4 separate regions of the Homo sapiens genome follow, and all the other regions are linked to region 1. The links come from fine-mapping of genetic effects on gene expression. A gene starts in region 1. Each other region holds a variant in brackets. All regions are shown on one strand. Distances are from middle to middle. Region 1 holds the start of MLIP (muscular LMNA interacting protein). Region 2 overlaps LOC101927189 (a long non-coding RNA gene). Region 3 has its middle 13 kb from the start of MLIP-IT1. Region 4 has its middle 26 kb from the start of MLIP.

What was found. PIP is the estimated chance that this variant, and not a neighbour inherited with it, causes the effect.
Region 2: its variant is the best candidate, but not a certain one, in a credible set for the expression of MLIP in esophagus mucosa (GTEx, PIP 0.72).
Region 3: its variant is the best candidate, but not a certain one, in a credible set for the expression of MLIP in cerebellum (GTEx, PIP 0.58).
Region 4: its variant is the best candidate, but not a certain one, in a credible set for the expression of MLIP in subcutaneous fat (GTEx, PIP 0.54).

Annotation. Positions count from the first base shown.
Region 1 is chr6:54,109,160-54,114,328 of GRCh38, reverse strand. It overlaps MLIP (muscular LMNA interacting protein), which reads right to left and starts at 2,886. Exons shown (of 14, transcript NM_001281747.2): 1 at 2,754-2,886. The coding sequence starts at 2,849.
Region 2 is chr6:53,991,758-53,996,926 of GRCh38, reverse strand. It overlaps LOC101927189 (a long non-coding RNA gene), which reads right to left. Exons shown (of 4, transcript NR_125842.1): 3 at 2,063-2,137; 4 at 1-1,963. Among named protein-coding and RNA genes, the nearest start is that of MLIP-IT1, 4.5 kb to the left of the region's middle. The variant T/C (reference allele first, on the strand shown) is at 2,077.
Region 3 is chr6:54,009,732-54,014,900 of GRCh38, reverse strand. No RefSeq gene overlaps it. Among named protein-coding and RNA genes, the nearest start is that of MLIP-IT1, 13 kb to the right of the region's middle. The variant A/G (reference allele first, on the strand shown) is at 3,152.
Region 4 is chr6:54,083,272-54,088,440 of GRCh38, reverse strand. It overlaps a transcript of MLIP not described here. Among named protein-coding and RNA genes, the nearest start is that of MLIP, 26 kb to the left of the region's middle. The variant C/T (reference allele first, on the strand shown) is at 2,374.

The sequences.
Region 1 (5,169 bases):
TGTGAGTATGAGTCAAGTTTACAGGAAATTCTGTGCTGGGGATAAAATTACTAGGGTTGTTAACCCATAGATGATATTTAAAACCAGGAGACTAGATGAGATCAATAAAGATGTAAACACAAATAGAAAAATAAGAGGCTTAAGGCCAAACCCTACAGACTCTAACATTGAGTGATCCACCAGCTGAGGAAGAACTAGCCAAGGTGGCCTGGGCGTTTTAAGGAAGATTTTAAAAGGCTGAAACATCACTGACAGTAGTCAGAAAGAGGGCTGACCAGAAACAAAATTTCTCACAGTCTACACTGAGGAACCAGTCCAAATATAAATCCAGGAACAGTGAGGCAATTTGCTTGGCTGTTCGATAGTCTCTCAAGGAATGCTTTGCTGGTTTTGGCAGGATGTGGCAAGTATAAGGAAATTAAGGGTACTGGTGAGAGTAGAGCAAATGATTGACCATGGAGTTCAGTTTGTATAGGTAAGGAGGAAGAACCCTCAAGTTGAAGGAACTAGAGGTCTCTGTGCTCAGGAAACAGAGTTGATACTATGATGACTGTTTGAGAGAATGGATGGGGTCATAATATGATATGAGAGTTTATTAATTTAATAATTAGAAGTATGATAATTCCAGATGATTCTAAATTCCAGGCTTTGGCATTAAGACTGAGTATATGAAAGGAAGGGCACTGAGCTTGTGAAGATCAAGGAACTGTGAGACAAGAATATTGACAGGGTTTTAAAAACTTTTAATTTTCAATATTCTTTTCGCCTTTAAAGATATGTGTCATTATTTCCTCATTGTATCCATGTCAAAATACCTTATCATCAAAAAGTAATAAATCAGTGCTTTATATTGTAGGAAGGATCCCTTGTGAGATTTAAGGAGCCCACTTATCTATCAACAATACGTAATACAACAGGCCTTCTAGATGTATTATCTTCTAGGGCTGTTTCATCACATAACTAATCTCATCAATATCATGATAGAAAGGAGAGTGGTTTTGGCAAGGAAATTACTGAAGTAGTTCAAATAATCCATCCCATAATTTCATTTGAGTAAGAAATAAAGATAATCCTTTAGGAGTAAAGAGGTGAAATTGCAACTTTGTCCCCAGGTTCTGTAACTAGGCCTTCCCTTATCTTTCCATGTCATGACTATAGGTCTATCTTATGTTCCATCCAAATAAAATTTAAAAAATAATATATGAAAGTCTTCATTATAAGCACCCCATGGTTACAAAATACATATAACCATTATAAGCAGTAAGTAGCTTTACCTTCTAAAGCATATATAATGATGAAAATTTATTTCTTCAAACACCTTGCACAATTTGTATAATTCAATGCTACTTAAGTATCTAAGATACAAATACAGCTCCACAACTGGTATGTCACATGCTATGAACTTTTTAAAAGTTGACAGCTATAACTTTCAGTGAATAAAGTAGAAACAAAGTATGAATGAAAACTGATGCTTCAATGAATAAGGTATGCTTTTACAACGGTACTGCCTAAAAAATTTCTAAACATAACCACATCCTGACAATAAAGGCAACTGAAAAGAAGAAAACCTATTTCTTTCTAATTTATTGTTATATTTTCCTAAAGAAACATCCATATCCTACATAAAATTTTCTCACCAGTGTAAGGAAACAATTTTTTTTTATTTTAGTTGAACCAGTACATGATGTGATTCCAGAAAACACAGAAACAGGAAATCTAATAAAACTAAAGACTTATTCATCTTCCTGAGTTACTGTTGGAGAATAACAAGATCAGACATAAATTCCTGTCCACATACATATCTTCAGAAGAATAATCACAAAAAGGGCAATCATTTGGTATTCGCTTTTAAGCTAACAGTACAATATTAGCTCTTTTCACCACCTTTACCTAGCATCCTTAACTTACCAAGGATCTAATACTCATTCACAAGGAATTTCAGTTGGAAAAGAATTTGAAATTACACCAACTATGCAATGCAACATTCAGATAAAGAGCCACATATTAGCCAGTAGACTATTTAATCCCTTGTTTAGGAGAGAACAAAAAAATATTTGCTGTTTACTGCATACTGTGGCTAAGTTCCAATGTAGCCTAAGAATGAATTGCTATGGTGATGAAAAACCATTTTCCACACAAAGCAGCAACAGATGCATGTTAACAGCATTGCACTTGTTAATTGCCAATTAACACTTTCAGTTGTCAATGTTATTTAAATATCTTAGTTTCTATCCTTGGGAAACTAATTTAGTCATAGAAATATGAGATAAAAGGATTAAAATCTTTTTCTAAATACACTTTGAAATGCTCAAAATCTCTAAGAACGTCATCTTCTCACCGGATAGCCTAATAATTTGAGAAACTGTTTTCCCGCATGCCACGCAGGCTAACAGCTCCTTTGCTCAGTTTTGGGCTGTAATGCCTTCCTTTCTTATATTTCCCTAAAAGTTCTCTTCCTTCAGATGTTGACACCCACACTCGCAGATGGCCTCTAGCCTCCTGTTAAGGCATTACAGGGTATCTTACATTATCACTGTGCCAAGGGCAATCCTGAGCATTTTCTTTGCCCAATGAGCAGTTTTGTCTTTATCAGCTCACCCTTTTCTCTAAGTGAAGATAGCATTTCATTTCAATATACATACAAATTTATCTTCACTGGGCAGCTCTCCCTCACATCCTTGCAGCAAATACCACCAGCACCGTACACTGCTTTTAAAAGTTACTGAAAGCATTAAGCAAAGACTTCCTTTTACCTGGGGTGTGGTCTGAATGCTCCCTGATAAGATGCACGAGGTCATTTGGAAGTAATTGTTCCCGCAGTCACTCAGAAGCCCCTGTTCTGAAAGCATTGATTCATCACATAAGGGAGCGAGCAAACCAATGACTGAGGTGGGAAGGGAGCCTCATACTAAAACAACACACACACACTCACGCAGAAAGAAGAAATTCTAAAAAGAGGTAAAGCAGAGTCATTCCAAAATTGAGGAATTGTGTCAGCTCCGAAGAGTAGATTTCTGTTTTGACAATTTTTAGATTTGGAACATTATGAGAGGTCATACTAACTGCTGAAATGGAATCAGTAGAAGTGAAAAAAAGAAAAAGAAAAAGAAAAAAAGCCACTGATATGTGTTTTCCCTCTTTTCTTTTCATGCATGTATTCCAATTATATATTCTGTGAAAAGAAGAGAAAAGCCAGATTGTGCAGCAATGAGAAGCTGATTGAAGGGCGCTAGCACCTGCCAATCTCAATAATCAGTTGGTCATGCTCATAGAGAACATTTAGAGGTATAAATACATGCAAACACTGTGTCCAAATAAAGAACTAGAAAACACACAGTTATTTCAAAATATCAGTAACTTTATCCTTAGTATATAAATTGTAAGCAACAATACAGGAGCATCTGTAGTGACTGAAGTTATGTTATTAACAAAATCACCTCTAAAATAAAGCTTGGAATCAAATCCTTGTCAAAACAGAATTTCATTCCAAGGTTCCTGGAAGACAGTGAGAATCCTGACTGCAGACAAACCTTAAAACTTCATATGTGAAATTGATTGGAGTCTTCAGCTTTCAGTACTTCTATTTTCTAAGTATTGATTTTTCTCCAAATCTGTAATATCTACATTTGTGCTTTGGCAGTGAAAAGTGTTGTATCCAAAGGACTAGATATAGATCAAAGGCTATGGGAAGGAATTACTATTTTAGAAACCTAGATTATGCCTCTTCACATTTTCGATGTTATCAAAAGCCTGAGATTATGGAAACATAATGAGTAAAATAATTGCTATAAGTGATTCTATTAGCACAGTGGGAGGAACTATTCCAAACAACACAGACCTAGAATATGATCTAAATTTCTGAATATAAGTGCCGTGTTATAAAAAAAACTATGAGCCTTCTTCTATTTTACACATATTTATGGATACTCAAAAGAGAATATAAGTGCCTCTTGCCCTCAAAAAGCTAATGGTTTGAGAATATAAAACAGGTAAACAAATAACAAAGATACAAAGTGAAAAAAGAAAACAAGAAAAAGCCCTATACTGGCCAGGCGCCGTGGCTCATGCCTGTAATCCCAGCACTTTGGGAGGCCGAGGCGGGCGGACCACAAGGTCAGGAGATCGAGACCATTCTGGCTTATATGGTGAAACCCTGTCTCTACTAAAAAATACAAAAAATTAGCCGGGCGTTGTGGCGGGCAGCTGTAGTCCCAGCTAATCGGGAGGCTGAGGCAGGAGAATGGCATGAATCCGGGAGGCGGAGCTTGCAGTGAGCCAATATCGCGCCACTGCACTACAGCCTGGGCGACACAGCGAGACTCCGTCAAAAAAAAAAAGAAAAAGAAAAAACGAAAGGAAGGAAGGAAGGAAGGAAGGAAGGAAGGAAGGAAGGAAGGAAGGAAGAAAGAAAGAAAGAAAAAGAAAGAAAGAAAAGAAAGCCCTATACTGCAGTTCTTCTTAAACTACTGCACACATAAATCCCCTGGGGAGCTTGTTAAAATGCACTTTCTAAGTGTGGAGATCTGAGATGTGGCCTCAGATTCTGCATTTCCAAGAAGCTCCTAGTAGATGCCCTGGGAGCCACACCCCAGATCTGCTGCTGGTGTGTTACACTTTGAGTAGCAAAGACAGAGGAATTTCAGAGAACGATGTTACAGCCACCTGGAGGGCAGTAATTCAAGATGGTGGCATTTGGGCTGCACTTAGAAGAACGGGGAAAGGGAAACTATGAAGGTGGGATGGAATAGCAAGTATTTCAAGCAAAGAGAGAGGGCTGGATTGAAGGCACCTATCGGGACAGCAAGAGCAGTAAGTCATAAAGCACAGGACCCTGGAGCCACATCATCCACTGGCTGTGGGCCCTCAGACAAGTTACTGAACTTTTTAAAGGCTCAGTCCTCTCACCTGTGAAATGTGGATGAGAATAGCTCTCATTTCACAGAGTTCTTGTGAGGATTACAATTAAATTCAGCATGTAAGATTTCCACAGATTCTTAGCTCTGTGCCAGGCAGATTCTTAATACACGTTACTCCTGTGGGTATTGTTGTTTTCTAGTTTTATAAATAACATAAATGAGAATAAAGGCAAGTAAGACAAAAAAAAGTAGGTTAAATGTAGGTCATCAAAGATCTTGAATTAAGATGTTTTAGCTTTATTCAGTGAAGAAC
Region 2 (5,169 bases), 120 kb after region 1:
AATCAAGTCAATGTAGTTACAGACAAAGCTGTGATAAAAGCATGAATAAAACAACGTGGCAAATGTTTTAAGTGGCAGAATGAAAAAAATGGATGCAATGAATCCAGTTAGGGCTAGTAAGCCAATAAAACAGTGTTAAGCACTTTAAGAGTGTCAGTCTAACTTTGATATTTTATTACCAATATATGACATGTGCATAATCTGTGCATCAGATGATAATAAGTGCTGGGGTTCACCTGTAATTAAAAGGCCTCGTAACAATTTGCATAGATTTTGGTACACTGTACAGGGGTCTCAAAGTACTCAATGCCAAAACACTTTTTTCTTTCAAACTATAATCTTTAACAGCTACTAAAGCAAAATGATTTAATCAGAATCCCAAATGCTAACAAATGAATGTGTTATTTGCAAGCATCATTTAGTAAGGCAGATTTCACCAAAGTGAAATCCTCATTAGTTTTGTATTATGAAATACAGACAAGAACCAGAAAAGGCCAAAGGACATATATTCAAATCTTTGCCAAAAAGCCTCTTCAAGTTTAGCTATTCTATGGCCGCTATATACTGCTGGGACTCACTGTAAAGAAGAGAAAATCCCCGTCCAGAACGCCAGATTAACGTAACATTTTAAAACTGCAAAGAGTGGGAAAATAAGGTCACATTGGGAATGCAGTCCCAGCACATTGAGCTTTTACTATCTCGTAGTAAAATGTGCATATGTATGCTCTGTGTGCCTGGCATTTTATTCATAAAAAAACATGCATAACAGAGATGAGAACCACAATGGACTCTAATCTATGCTCTAAAGGAATAAACAGATGAAAACCAATCTGGACAAGAAAATTCAGTGAGTCAGGCTCAGAAAATGAAAGCAAGTGTGTCTTATATTTTCTAACACACAATATGGCCAAATATTTATAGTCAAAGCTTGGTGGAGAGCTCTAGCAATTATTGCTTCCAGCCATTTAGGTCTCTGGTTTTGAAAGAACACTTTAGTATTACTAATTTTCCAGATAATAGGAGGCAGTGTAGGAGACAATGTTTTCATCATACAATGTGTAATATTAAACTATAACAAATGTACTTACTTAATCTTTCATTTCTAACTTCAGAAAATCAGAGCAGCTTTCCTATTATTGTGGGGTAAATGAGGCTTTATCACAAACATAAGTCATTTGGAGTCCATAGCTCCTTGAGTGATATGTATAACTAAGAAGACCTGAGAATCACAGACCTAAATCTCATGTCCAGATAATTGAGAATAAAATCTAAAAAATTGAGTTGCTAAATGTAGATTTACTTCCAAAAACCTTAGTGATAAACTTCTAGATTTTTGAATATGTTTTGTATATACTAGAAAGCCTGCATTTCCTTTCGTCATCATCAAAACAATTTGACTGTTCTCTTTCCCGCGTGTTGCTACACTGTGAACGAGTGTGGGCTGTTCCTTCTCTCTAAGACCATGCTTTTCAAAAAGTGATCCAAAGACCCTTATACCGTCTTCGCTGTGCTACTAGTTAAGCAGCTGAAATACGAAGGCCACACTCCCCACTTCTAAATAAAAATGTTTAATGATAGAGCTCAGGAATCTGCATTTTTAACAAAGTTTGAGAACTGGTGCTAGGGAATGTGACCACTCTACTATTTTAGTTGTGACACTTAATTCAGATACTCCCATTAAGTGAATATCAAAATCTTTAGATAATATTTAATTTCAAAATTTCTCCCTTCTGAGGGACCACTTAATATATTAATTCAGAGGGCTTACTTAATTCATCTTTTTATTGTTATATATATTGCCTTGAAAAGGAAAGGTCTTAATTATATACAGAATACAATATATGAGGCTGGGTGTGATGGCTCATGCCTGTAATCCTAGCACTTTGGGAAGTCGAGGCGGGCAGCTCTCTTGAGGTCAGGAGTTCGAAATCAGCCTGGCCAACATGATGAAACCCCGTATCTACTAAAAATACAAAAAAAAAAAACAAAATTAGCCAGGCATGGTGGTGGGCACCTGTAATCCCAGCTACTTGGGAGGGTGAGGCATGAGAACTGCTTGAACCTGGGAGGTGGAGG[T/C]TGCAGTGAGCCAAGATCACACCATTGCACTCCAGCCTGGGCAACAAGAGGGAGACTCCATCTAAAAAAAAAAAAAAAAAAAAAAAAATTCAGTATATGATAAAGTTGGTATTGCAAATCATTAAAGCAAAGATTGGCTTTTTATAAGTCATGCTGGACAACTGATTAGCCATTTGGAAAAAGATAAAATTAGATCAATTCTTCACACCATACACAAAAATAAATTCAAAATGAATCAAAGTGTAAAAAATAAAACTATGCAAGTACTAGGGGAAAAAGATGTGTGAATTCCTCTATAAGAAAAGCCTTTCTAACTGTGACTAAAAATTCAGATGTAATTGAAGAAATGAGTGATAAACTTAACTAAATGAAAATTAAAATTTTACAAAGAAAAAATACAAGCAAAGTCAAATAACAAAGTACAAGCCAGGATAAAATATTTGCAATATAAGCAATATTGAATATCTCATAGATAACGGATGGATATTCTTAATATAAAAACAAACTTTTACAAATTAAAGGAGAAAAACATCCTATAGACATATGGGCAAAAAATATAAGTAGACAACTCACAGAAAGATATTTTAAATGGTCCTTAAGCATTTGAAAAGATGTTCAACTTCACTGATAATAGTAGACACAAATTAAACTACAATGAGATACAACTTCTCACCCATCCCATTGGGAAAAATTCAAAAGTGTCACAATACAGTTCATTGCTGGGGCTGTGAGGAAACAGGCACTTTCATACGTTGCTGTTGAGGATCCAAAATGATACAAACTCCACAGAAGAGGATTGGACAATAGCAACCAAAATTACATATGCATTTGTCCATAAACCCAACAATCTCACTTCTAGGAATTTATTCTAAAGATAGTCTTACAACTGCAAAAATACATATCCAGAAGTTTATTCATTGTGGCAGTGTTTGTAATTGCAAATATTAGAAACTGCCTATATGTCTAATCATAGGACACTGTTGAATAAACTCTAGTACAAACACACAATGGATACTCTGTCATGGTAAACAAGAATGAGAAAGCTCTCTATGGACTGATATGGAATGATGGTCAAAAGATCTTGTAAAGTGAAAAATCAAAGCACCAGAGACTGTATGTAATACCACTATCTTTGTTTAGGAAAGATGGAAAAATAAGAAAACATACATATATCTTATATTTACCAAAAATTCACCAGAATGAAAAGCCAGAAACAATTATTAATATGTTGGTTACCCACAAAGGGTGAAGGTGATGAGAGTGCCAGGGCTGTAAAAAGGAGGAACACTTTTCTGAGTATATCTTTCTGTAAGTTTTGACTTTTGAAAGCATGTTAATGCTTGACATATCCAAAACAATTAAATCAACAAGGATAGGAAAGGGAGAAACTGAAACAATGAACCCAATTGTATTTCAAATGAATACTATAATTACAATGCAGGGCAAAAAATAACTAATTTTCATAACTTACAACAGTTTTGACTGCACATCCTACAGCCCTCAGCCTTGGGCAGGGTAGGGAGATGGAAAAACTGGAAACTAGAGATCCTGAACTCTTTTGAGTAGCTTTGCATTTTTGTAGACATGGGTGAAGTCATTCTGAAACTACTTTAGGTGTATTATGAGATTGAGCAAATGTGTAAATCTATCGATTTTAGAAGCCAAGACTCTCACTGTGAAAGAAGGTACATGCAAATATGGAATGGAGGAAGGCAAAAAAGATGAATTGAAAATGGAGGTATTGGTGTACACTTATGATACCTAAAATATGCACATGTATGTGTATAAACATGTATGTGTGCATATAATGTGTATGTATGTGCATTTATATGTATGTATGTAAGAGTGTGTATATGCATGCATATATCTCCTAGCTCTGTTCACTTAAAAAGGTGTAGAAGCAGAGATATTCCAGGAGCAAACAGCACAGCTAGTGCATGGATTTTTATCTCTAACACCATTCCCCACCAAAAGGGGCTTTTAGAGAAGTGGTTCTTAGAGAAGTCGCTGAAAGCAGGGCTGGGGAAGTGTGATGAGCCTGGAACATTTTGTTATATCAGAGGTAAGGATGTGCTCCAAAGATTAATGGACATATGGCACAGGCATACCTAGCCAGCTCGAAAGGACCCCAACTGGCCAAATTTGGGATAATCCAAGCACCAAGCTAAATAAGGATAATAATTATATACCACTTGGGGGAAGGTGGGGTGGGGAAACAGAAATCCGTGGGTTCATACAGATAATACACACTGCTATGGTGTGAATATATGTATCCCCCCAAAATGCATGTGTTGAAACTTAACCTCTAGAGTAATGGTATTAAGAGGTGGGATCTTTGGGAGGTGATTAGGAATTAATGTTCTTATAAAAGGGGCCTGAGGGAGTTTGTTCACTCTTTCCACCACGTGAGGACAGAGAGAAAGCACCATGTATAAGGAAAGGGCCCTTACAAGACACCAAATATGCTGGTGCCTTGAACTTGAACTTCCCAGTCTCCAGAACTGTGAGTAATAAATTTCTACTATATATAGACTACCCAGTGTAAGGTATTTTGTTATAAGGTATTTTGTTATAGACAGACTAAGACACATTCATCCATACACGAGGAAAAGGCAGGGTCCTTGGTTAAAGTAGAAGGTCACATGCTGACTGGTAAACATGGAGGGAGTGCTGAAGTGATCCTTGTCATTTTGTTGCCATCACAGCAAAGATTGGTTCAGGTAAGAATCCCAATAGATGCTAAATCTGAGGGGAAATTGTAATGAGGAGCAGGATATTTGGGTGGTCTTAAAGTGTCTCTCTTCAAACTCATTATTTTGCAAAGGAGAAAATAGTAACTATTTACAGTTGGAGAAATAGGACAACACTCCTACTGTGTGAGGAAAACTGGTGTCACCAGGGAGGGGCAGATAGACATCGTGTGCCTCCAGATGTGGCTGTCTGAGAAGCACACAATATCACATATGCAATATCCTGGCCAGGAATGCAGAACTTAAATCTAATCATGAGGAAACATCAGACAAATTCAAAATACAAAGACTCCTGTTTATAAAAAGTATGGGGACTCTGTCTTCAAATCTGTCACTGTCACAA
Region 3 (5,169 bases), 99 kb after region 1:
ATGTGTTGTTACGAAAATTAAGTGTGGTAAATTTTGTGTGTAAGGAACCTAACAGAATGTCTGGCAACAAGCAGGTTCTCAGTAAAAGCGTGTGACATTTTTTCCCTGGTCGACATGACATTTATGTAGGAAAAAGGTGACTTCAAAGATACTATCCAAACCCTAATAAGTGTGGCAAAAAAATTAACTAGACCAGGGATCGCCAACCCCTGGGCCATGAACCAGTACTTTGTGGCCTGTTAGGAAATGGGCTGCACAGCAGGAGGTGAGTGGCAGCTGAGCGAGCATTACCACCTGAGCTCCACCACCTGTCAGATCAGCAGCAGCATTAGATTCTCATCAGAGCGTGAATCTTATTGTGAACTGCGCATGTAAGGAATCCAGGTTTCATGCTCCTTACGAGAATCTAACGAATGCCTGATGATCTGAGGTGGCACAGTTTCATCCAGAAACCATCCCCCACCCCTAGCCCCATCTGTGGAAAAATTGTCTTCTGGGAAGCAAAAAGGTTGGAAACCACTGAAATAGAAAATAAGAGCAAATATTTGCAAGTTATTTATCTGATAAAAGATTTGTATCCAGGATACATAAAGAACTCTTGCAACTCAACAATAAAAAGACAAATAACCCAATGTAAAAAAATGGACAAAGGATTTGAATAGACATTTCTCCAAAGAAAACAAATGGCCAACAAGCACATGGAAAGATGTTCAACATCATAGTGATTAGGAAGCACAAAACAAAACCAGGAAATAACATTTCACACCTATTAGGATGGCTAAAATAAAACACAAACAATAACAAGCATTGGCAAGGATGTGAGGAAACTGAAACCCTCTTACATTACTCCTGAAATCATAAAGGGGCACAGCCACTTTAGACAACAGTGTGGCAATTCCTCAAAATGCTATACATAGAATTACAATATTACCCCAAAATTCCACTGCTAGGTATATACACAAGAGAAGTGACAACATGTGTCCACACAAAACTTCTACCCAAATGTTCATGACAGCATTATTTGTAATTGTCAAAAAGTGGAAAAAACACAAATATCTATCAGTATATGGATGGTAAAACAGATGTGGTATATCCATACAGGGAAAACTATTCAGCAATAAAAAGGAATTAAGTATTAATACATGCAAGAACATGGATGAACCTTGAAAATACAATAAGTGAAAGAAGCCAGTCACAAAAGACCACCTATTACATGATTTATTTACATAAAATGTCCAGAATAGGCAAATTCATGGAATGAGAAAGATCATTTGTGGTTTCCAGTGGTAGGAGGGAAGGCAGAACAGGGAGTGACTGCTAACGGGAACAGAGTTACTCTTTTGGATGATGAAAACGTTATGAAATTAGACATTGGTGATGATTTTGTACAACTTTGAAAATATACTAAAAATCACCAAAGTGTATGTACAGCGTAAAAGGATAAATTTTATAGCATATAAATTATACATTAAGAAGGCTATTACTTTTTTAAAAAAAATTGACAAAGAAAGATTTGTAATTCCTTTTTAAGCTGGAAATTTATTATTTTTCCCAGGAATATACTACACACATAGGGTCCCTCCAAACAGGAAATTAAAATGTAAACTGCAGTAACCAAGCAAGAATTCCATTCAAAATGGAAACAAATGACCGCTGGCACATAATATTTGGTTCAAGATATTGCCACCTCACTTCATTCCTTTGCATTCAATACACCTGCTTCCCAAATAAGTGCCTGATGAATTTGTGCCTGTATTCAAAAACTGGGGGAAAGTGGAACTTGCAGCAATTAAAATTGCTTGTTCATTTACTGGATCAGAGATCCAAATGTAAATTAACTTTAATTGTGGTGATTTTCCCTCACCTGCCATTTAAAAAACTTCCTTCTCCACAAAAAAAGCACAGATAGGTGCTCTACTGCTGAAACCTCACAAGGTAGACAAGGCACGAATGAAAACAAATGCTGTTTTCTTTTGAAAGAATGACAATCTGCCAAACATGGCATAGACAACCCAGAATCTTCCCCATTACATGCTCCAAGGATAAATATCTTTTTACTAAGACAGGGGTCATCTTCTGGGACAATTGATGCTTTTATAAAGGTTTCTTATCATTCCACATAGCCCATCCAGAACATGAGTCCGTTATTCCCCCCTTGATCAATTCAGAAGCCCACGTAATCTCCACACCCATTTAGTGATGGACCAGGATACTATACTCAGCACATGCTTCAGGTACCCAAGGGCCTAATCCAAATGTAGCTCAGACCCAGCATTGAGCACTGATCTCAAACAGTTAACTTCTGATCTGTTGGTGTTGCTCTTAGTTCAGAGCTTATGCCTTTGTCTCTAGAAAGCTGTGTTCCAATTGGTGGTCACAGCATTGGGGAGGGAGGTGGCTGTAGGCAAGCGAGAGAATGGTTCCCAGCTCTTTCTGGTTGTCTCAGCATCCTTACCTGAATCTATTTATCAGCTTTGGCAGCTGCAAACTCTTAAGGAGCAGCTGTCAACTCTTCTACGGGAAGACTTTTAACCTCCCATCACCACCCTTTTTAAGGCATCCGTGATGGCTTCTGTAGGCAAGCAGTACTGAGTTCTAAAAGTTGTGGTGGGTACTCAGAGCTTGTGAAAAGATAATGTCTATAGAGGAATTTCTTAAAGTTGAATTCGTCACTATACAACAAATATTGTTTGTAAGTTGAAGCTGCCAAGCAGATAAAAAAGCCAACCCCAAAATATCAGTAGATGATAATTATGATAATGACAGCTTAACAAACTTGTACCTTTGTAATTACTGTTCTTCAGTGAAACATAAACTATTTCTACTGGAATGTAAGTTTTTTAACTTCTTCTGATACTGGTTGTCCCCTTATTTTGGTTCTGGGCCATATTTTTTGAATGACTATAAAAAATACATTTTAGTCCATCTAAGGGAGAAAACATGTTCTTTCTAAAATTACTTCTGAGGCAGAGTGTTTTTTGAAGCATTAGAAAATATTTGAATCAAGTGAGAACTGTAAGAACTTTGAAAAGTGCTTTTTTAATTTGTGCACCATCTTAAAAAAATGCAATTCCTTTATTGGAAACTTATTGAAAAGTAAAATGTGAGGTTTTAAAAAACTACTGCTATTAACATTGGTGACAATTTCTAC[A/G]TAGCAATAGTAATTCGGATATAAAACTAAATTCATACCTTCAGAGTCTGTAAAACAAACTGGCTAAAATCAGTTGAGAATCAAGTCCAGCATGTTCCGTTTTCTCAACTACTATATAATAGCACGTTTTCAAGGGGCTTTCAATTTATTTTCTCTTGTGCATGGTTACATCCACAGAGGTACTTGGTTGAACAGGATTTGCTCTTGCATTTGCAGTCAATATATTTCTAGGCCCTTTCAACGGTCGATACACTTCCTAGTAGTTCCTAGTAGCCACTTTCTGTCTGTCTGTCTGTCTGTCTCTGTCTCTCTCTCTCTCACACACACACACACACCGTTGCTATTTCAGGAGTAAAGACAACAAACCAAGGTGAACTGACAGGATTTTAGGGAAAAGGACTCAGAAGCAGAATTACAATGTGTCTTTCTAACTTTGGAAAGGAGTTCCGGATTTAAGTTTTTCTGGGTCTTTTTGACTTAATCAATACAACCAGATTCAACACCTAGCTCACCCCTCCCCCAAACCCAGCAGCTTAACTGTCATGGTTGTGTTGACATGATAAATCACTTTGCCCCCAAAGTAACAGCTCGGTGCCCTTTGAGACAGTGTGCCCAAAATGTACTTTCAGTTTTATCAGTTGAAATTGTAACATGTTCCAAAGCAATCTGCACTTATACAGAAAGAATGCTTACCTTTCTACTGACTTGGAAGCAGTCTGCAGGACAGTAATCCATCAGGGAGGTCAACGGCCACATTCCCAGAACAGCTGACCCTGTCAGTCTTCGGAAAATACTGTTTACTCTGTAACTAATACTGGATACCAGGCACAAGAGGCAGAAACCAAATTTTAAAAAAAGAGTTTGGCATAAACCTCATTCCCACTGGGACCACTTCACAAGAACCGTAGTTGCTAAGTTCCCCCCAAAATATTTCTTTATAAGAATGTCTTAGCAATAGTGGGAATTTTGAGTCAAGTGTTGAAAGTTTTGCAACATATCCAACTATCTAATTTTTAGTGTACTGATGAAAATTCTTTAAGCTTCCCTAAGGACATAAGTGGTAACAGAGTAAAATGTTACTGAAAATTGAATTTATCTTCTATTATGTTGACTGGATTTTTTAAGTAAAATTAAAAGTCCTTCTGAAGTGAAATGTCCATTACTCCAGAGAAGGAAAGTCGGAATTATGCAATAGATGTCCATGACAAGGCTGAACAAACTCCACAGTCAGGCAGGACAATTGCCCTGCTTCCCAGCCACCAAAAAATGTCCAGAGAGGGCAGACTTCTGCTGAACCTTCCTCAGTTCCCACAAATTTTCTTCGCTAATTACTCTCAACAGAAGTGAGTCTGCGTTACCCCAAAGGCCACTACTTCAATGTCTAGCCTCTGTGCAAAGGGATCCAACTTTGGGCTATGGCCCATGTGGAAGTCCCATTTAAAGCATAGCCAGGGAAGAGACTCAGAATTTGAAAAGCAAATTATTGCTCATTTACTTGATTATCTGTGGAAAATATATCATCTCAGATTAGCTTTGTCATCCCACCCTGTAAATCATCCCACCTGCCTTCTATAGTGTATTTTTAAAAGAAGGAAGCTATCACAATTTATTTGCCTTTTGGGATCATTCACATTGTAACTCAGGGTTCCCTAGTAACTTGTAACTGTGGCACACTGAGTTTCTGCTGTTTCAAAAGGTTCCAGGAAGAAGCCCAGCTATAGCAAAACAAAAACCAGGTAAAACCAGAGGTGCCTGAGTTGGAGATGAAGTTTGGTGAACTCTCCCTATTACCATACTTAAAAACCCCACCTAGGGAGGAGCTTATTCACCATTTTCTATACCTGCAATATATGAAGAAGCATGATCAGGACTGTGCCTGCACTGCCTTTACCCTGCCTTTCATACAATGACTAAGCCAACCAGCCTAATGAAAGCCCTGCTCTCATCTTCCTTTGGAGAGACACACTGCTTTGGGAACTATCCCCAGTGTTCTCCTTACTTGTTGCAAGTAACAAAAA
Region 4 (5,169 bases), 26 kb after region 1:
TGGCCGGCCACACTCTTTGACCTCGTTTAACTCTGGCATCAAGATTGTCTCACCTACTACAGAACCTCAGGGAAAGCAAAGAAGGGTAAAATAAGTCAATAATTTCATAAGTTACTATATTTGTATGCCTTGATTTATCCATTGGTGCTCCCACTTAGGCCAGACCCTCACTTCTTCCTACCCTGAACCTCCAGCATCTGACTTTTGACATATTCAGGAAGTTTGAGGCCTCAGAGACCTAAGCATAAGTTTCTCTCTTTTCCTTGGCTTGTTCTTCAGAAAAGACAAACTATTTTACTTCAATTCTGAAACCACCTTGCATAAACTAAATGTGTCAAGTTTGGAAAACACATAAGCATAAGAATATGCAAATTTCCTTTTGGGAACAAGAGCTAACTTGAAAATGATACCATGGCCGTTTCTGAAGACTCCAAAAGGAAGCTGTTTAGCTCAGTAACTTGCACTAAATCATGAGTAGGTTCAGCCTGCCCAGGTGTTCTCCCTCTGGACACATTCCCCAGGTAGAGCTTTAGGCTCTTCAGAAAGCCTGATCGCTGCCTGGCAGATGGATCTTCTGGCAAAGAGCAAGAATCTCAAACAGTGGAGGAGTTAAAAAAAAAAAAAGAGTATCTTTCCCATAAGCATCTTAAAGTATTTTGTTTTTTAAAATTTTTCTTAAACAGTTCAGTAAATGGCAGCATCACCCAAGCAAAATCTACTTTATTTTATTTAGACAAAGTAATGTTCTCACAACCCATGCAGGTCCACAGCTTGGATCCTCTTCCTTCTCATGGCCCCTCACACATGTGAGGGCAGTGGCCCCCAGAGGAAGGAGAAGGCATGCAAGTAAGGAGTCACCAAGCTTTCAAAGATAGCCTGACTTACTGGAAATGTGTTGGCCCCTCTATTAGATTCATTCCTCTTTGCCACTATTTTTTATCCCTGATTTCTGTGGGTTTTTTTATGTTTCTTTTTTGCATCAAATAACATTTCTTTTTCTTGAAACACTTTCCCTCTACGAAACCACCCACTTCAATTTAGTCATTGAGTCATCAGAATGGACTCATTAATAGATAAAGACAAACAATCTGAATCCAAGGCTATTTGCTATAAATGTGAAACTTCCACCTCTTCAGCAGTTTACATACCTAAGGCAGATATTGTAACACCTCCTTGCCCTCTACGCTCATAGTCACAGAAGAGGCACAGCTATAGGTTGTTGTTTTGGCTTTGATGCCATATTAGAATAGACTTCCAGAAACCATTCCCTACTTCCATATATCATAATATTCATTTACTCATCGTTTGTTCAAAAAATCTTGACTGAGCACTGGCTAGGTGCCAGGTGTTATCCTAGATCCTGGGGATACAACAGTGAGCTGAACACAAAAAAATCCCTGCCCTCATGTAACCTCTATTTTAGAAGAGAGAGATAGATGATAAATAAAATAAGTTACATAATATCTTAGAATATTGTGGTCGTGCTGAGAAGGAACTAAGCATGGAAGATATGTACAGGGAGTAGCAGAAGATGGAGGTGAGAGCACAATAGATTTCAATAGGTTGGACAGAGAAGGCTTCCTTGGAGGTGACTTTTAAGAAGAAGATTTAAGGAAGTGAAGAAATAAATTATGCAGATATCTAGGTGAAAATACTCCAAGAAGAGAGAACAGCAAAAGCCAAGAACCAAAGGTAGGAGGCTATCTGACATCCCTGAAGAACAGAGGCTGGTGTGGCTGGAGAAAATGACCCTGGGGAAGAGCCAGAAGGGATGTGGCAAGATTCTTAAGAAGGGGCCAGATTGCTAGGGCCTTGTCAGCCACTATAACGGACTTTGGCTTTTATTCTGAGTGAGATGAGAAACTATTGAAATATTCACAGCAAAGTGGTGACATGATCTCACTCTCCAGTAGCAATGAGCATATTAAGCACCCAAATCTTGGTTTCTTTATGCTATATTCCCCTAAAATGAAGGAGGTTTCCTTGCAGAAATGGCTGATTCCAAATTTCAGTCAAGAAAAGCACAAAGTAATACTAAAAATTAAACATACACACATAAATAGGTGGGGTAAGAAGAGAAAGAACCACTGTTCAATTGTGGACACCTTAGGTGGGAGGGGTCTTTTAGACATTCAAGTAAATATGCTGAGTATGGAGTTAGATATATGAGCCTAGAATTTAAACATAGAGTCACATCTGGAGATGTAAATGTGGAAGTTATAAAGATATAGAGAGCATGTACAACCTTGAGATTGAATCGTATTACCTAGCCAAGGAGTAAATGTAGATAAAGAACCAATGAACACACATGCAGAGGTGGTAAATGTGAGGAGGATGAAGACTGAAAAATATGGAGTATTTATAGAAAATAAC[C/T]AATAGTTCAGTTATTCCAGGACATACGACACATAAATCTGAGCAGTGGAAATTCAGGCTGTCATGGCAGGTCTGGGAGAGAATACAAAGGGCCTGGAATGCAGCCTAAGAAATTTCTTCTTCAGAATTCAGAAGAAGTGAGAGCAGCAGATGTAGACTCAGCAGTCATCAACATAAAGCAAGCTGGAACTTCATAGCCTGATGAGACTGCTCTGGGAAAATAAATAAATGAAGGCCTTGAGATGAGGCTAGAACTCTGGTAACCCTGGAACTATTCATGTAGGAAAATGAGCGTGAATAGATGCTTGTGTGAGTCAGCCACTGGTAGGCAGCTCTTCACACAGTGACCTTTTCAAAGGAATGGATCTGTGCTTGGCAAGTTGAAGGCTTCTAACAGGACACTGCAGCTGGGTTTGTAAAACTGTTCAGGCTCACTCTGCTGGGCTTCCACCCTTTAATCTCACTGATTCGTTTTGTTTACTTGTAGCCTAGCTACAAATGAGAAATATGATCTCTTCAAATATCCCCCCAAGAATTCTGACATGACCAGAGATGATGAAGACAATCATGATATCATGATAAACACAAAGTTTACTGTGTGCCAGACATTTATTAAGTACTTTCTCATGGAATCCTCACAAAAACTTTTGAAATAGGTACGACTATAATCCCTATTAATAAGTGGGAATTCTGATGCTTAAAAATGGTTCACTAACCTCCCCCAAGGTCATACAGCAAGCAATAGCTGTAGCACTCAGGCACAGGTCTTTCTGACTCCATAGCACTGCAGTCTTAACTATTGTCACACAATGTTTCTCAATGCCTCTCAGAGGTGCCACTTGGAACCACAGCCAGTTAGAAATGGTGGGGCTGGTGTCAGGAGAGAGGAGAAGGATGAAGTTGTAACTGTCACTTAGCCTGGCCTTGTGCCTCAGTTATCCATTTAAGGAACTCTCAGTTGAAGCCCATGACTTGCTAAAGATGAAAAGCCTGTCGTGGATGCAATTCCTAGTGAAAAACTACCTGCAGGGTGAACACAGTAGATTTCAAATCTGGTCTATCTATGCTTCAAGAAATGTCTTCAAGAAGTGGAGGTTTGCTACAAAATTGGAACACATTCCTAGAGTAACACCTGGAATCATCTCAAAAGGCCTTCAAGTCTCGACATATACAACTTTTAGACAGAAAGTAAATGAAGCGAAGAAGATTTTGCAGAAATTCACAATGGCCAAATTTTTGAAGCTTTTATCCACCATCCATTTGCTCCCGTGACTCTTAGATTAAAATGCCTTTACAATAACAGGGATATATTGGGAACAGTTAAAGCTGTGCTACCCTGGGGCAACAAGCTTAAAAAATGCAATGAAAATATACTAATCTTCCCTATTTGAGGAATTCAAAAAGAAAAAAATAATTCCTGAATTTGCAAAGAGTACTTTTTTCTCCTTGTTAACCCAAATTAAAAAGGTTCCCAGCTATTGTATATGTACACATATCCACCTGCTTGAGGTATAGAAAAGCAATTAAGTCACTCTGGAATGCATTCATGGTGGATTAAATAAATACCCTCTCCCTGTCTTATTTCACTGACATCTAGGTAATGTGACCCTGATTGCAAGAGCAATGCCTTGCAAATAAAAGTTGCAGGAACGTTCAGTACCCATTTATTATTCCATCATCGTAGGCTTGACACACCCAGCAGTAAATGTGATCATGTTCAGCACCATAAACAAAATTGTTATCTTCAATTACTACTGTGGATAATTCATAGTTTCCAGGGACACTACTGGAAAAAAAATAAGTAATGAACCTTCACATGTGGAATCCTAAGCTTCAACTAAAGAGTGTACAAATACTGGGATGCCAGGTTAGGAAAGAGAGAAGGGAGGGGTGATAGGGGGAGCAAAAAAGTTCAAGGAAGGACAAAGAGGAAAAAGTAGAACTGTGGCTTCTGTAATTCATAGTCACAAAGCATAACTGAGACTATGTTAAGAAATTAGAATTACATGTTGAAACCTATTTCAAGATCAAATCATTAAAATCATGATACATTTTTACATTCCCAAGTTTGTTCTACTTAAAATTATTTTTAAATTAAAAAATATATAATCTCAAATTTAGTCCTAAAAAGTAGCAGCTTAAATGCAAAGCAATTTTTCAGATTCATGATACTCATTCCTACCAACAATTTACCTAAATTATTTCCCATTATATAAAGTTATAGTAAAATCAACTTTTCCTGGAGCAATTCTAAAGTTGAGCATGCTAATTAGTCCACAGCTAATTTAACATCTGTTGTCTGATACCATTATAAACAGCCATGCCACCTAAAACATAACTACTGCAATACGAAATAAGAAATACAAAGACAGTACACAGCTATCATTGATGTTAAATGTATAACAGGGTGACAGTATCAAGGAATTGTACTAATAATGTCATAGAACTCACAGAACATTCAAATCCAAGGTACCAGCTGCACATGGAATCCGGTGCCACGTGTCAAACTAGCAGATGTCAAGAAAGCAGTGGTTGTAACGGCAAGGTCAGTGTCAGCCAATAGAACTCATTGACAAACACTTGCCTGTGTCAGCTGCTGATATTGATGAGCTGCAAAGATGACAAAGCACTGTACAAATTATGCCCTCCTTCCTCCCTGCTTCCCCAACAACTCTGGACTGGAAATAGCAATGCATCTGTTATTTCAATCCCATCTGAATATATTAACCTATCTTGACCTTAGCAGTGTTCTAAGAGAAACTCTTTGCCTGGAAATTGAGGGAAGCTCTATTTTAA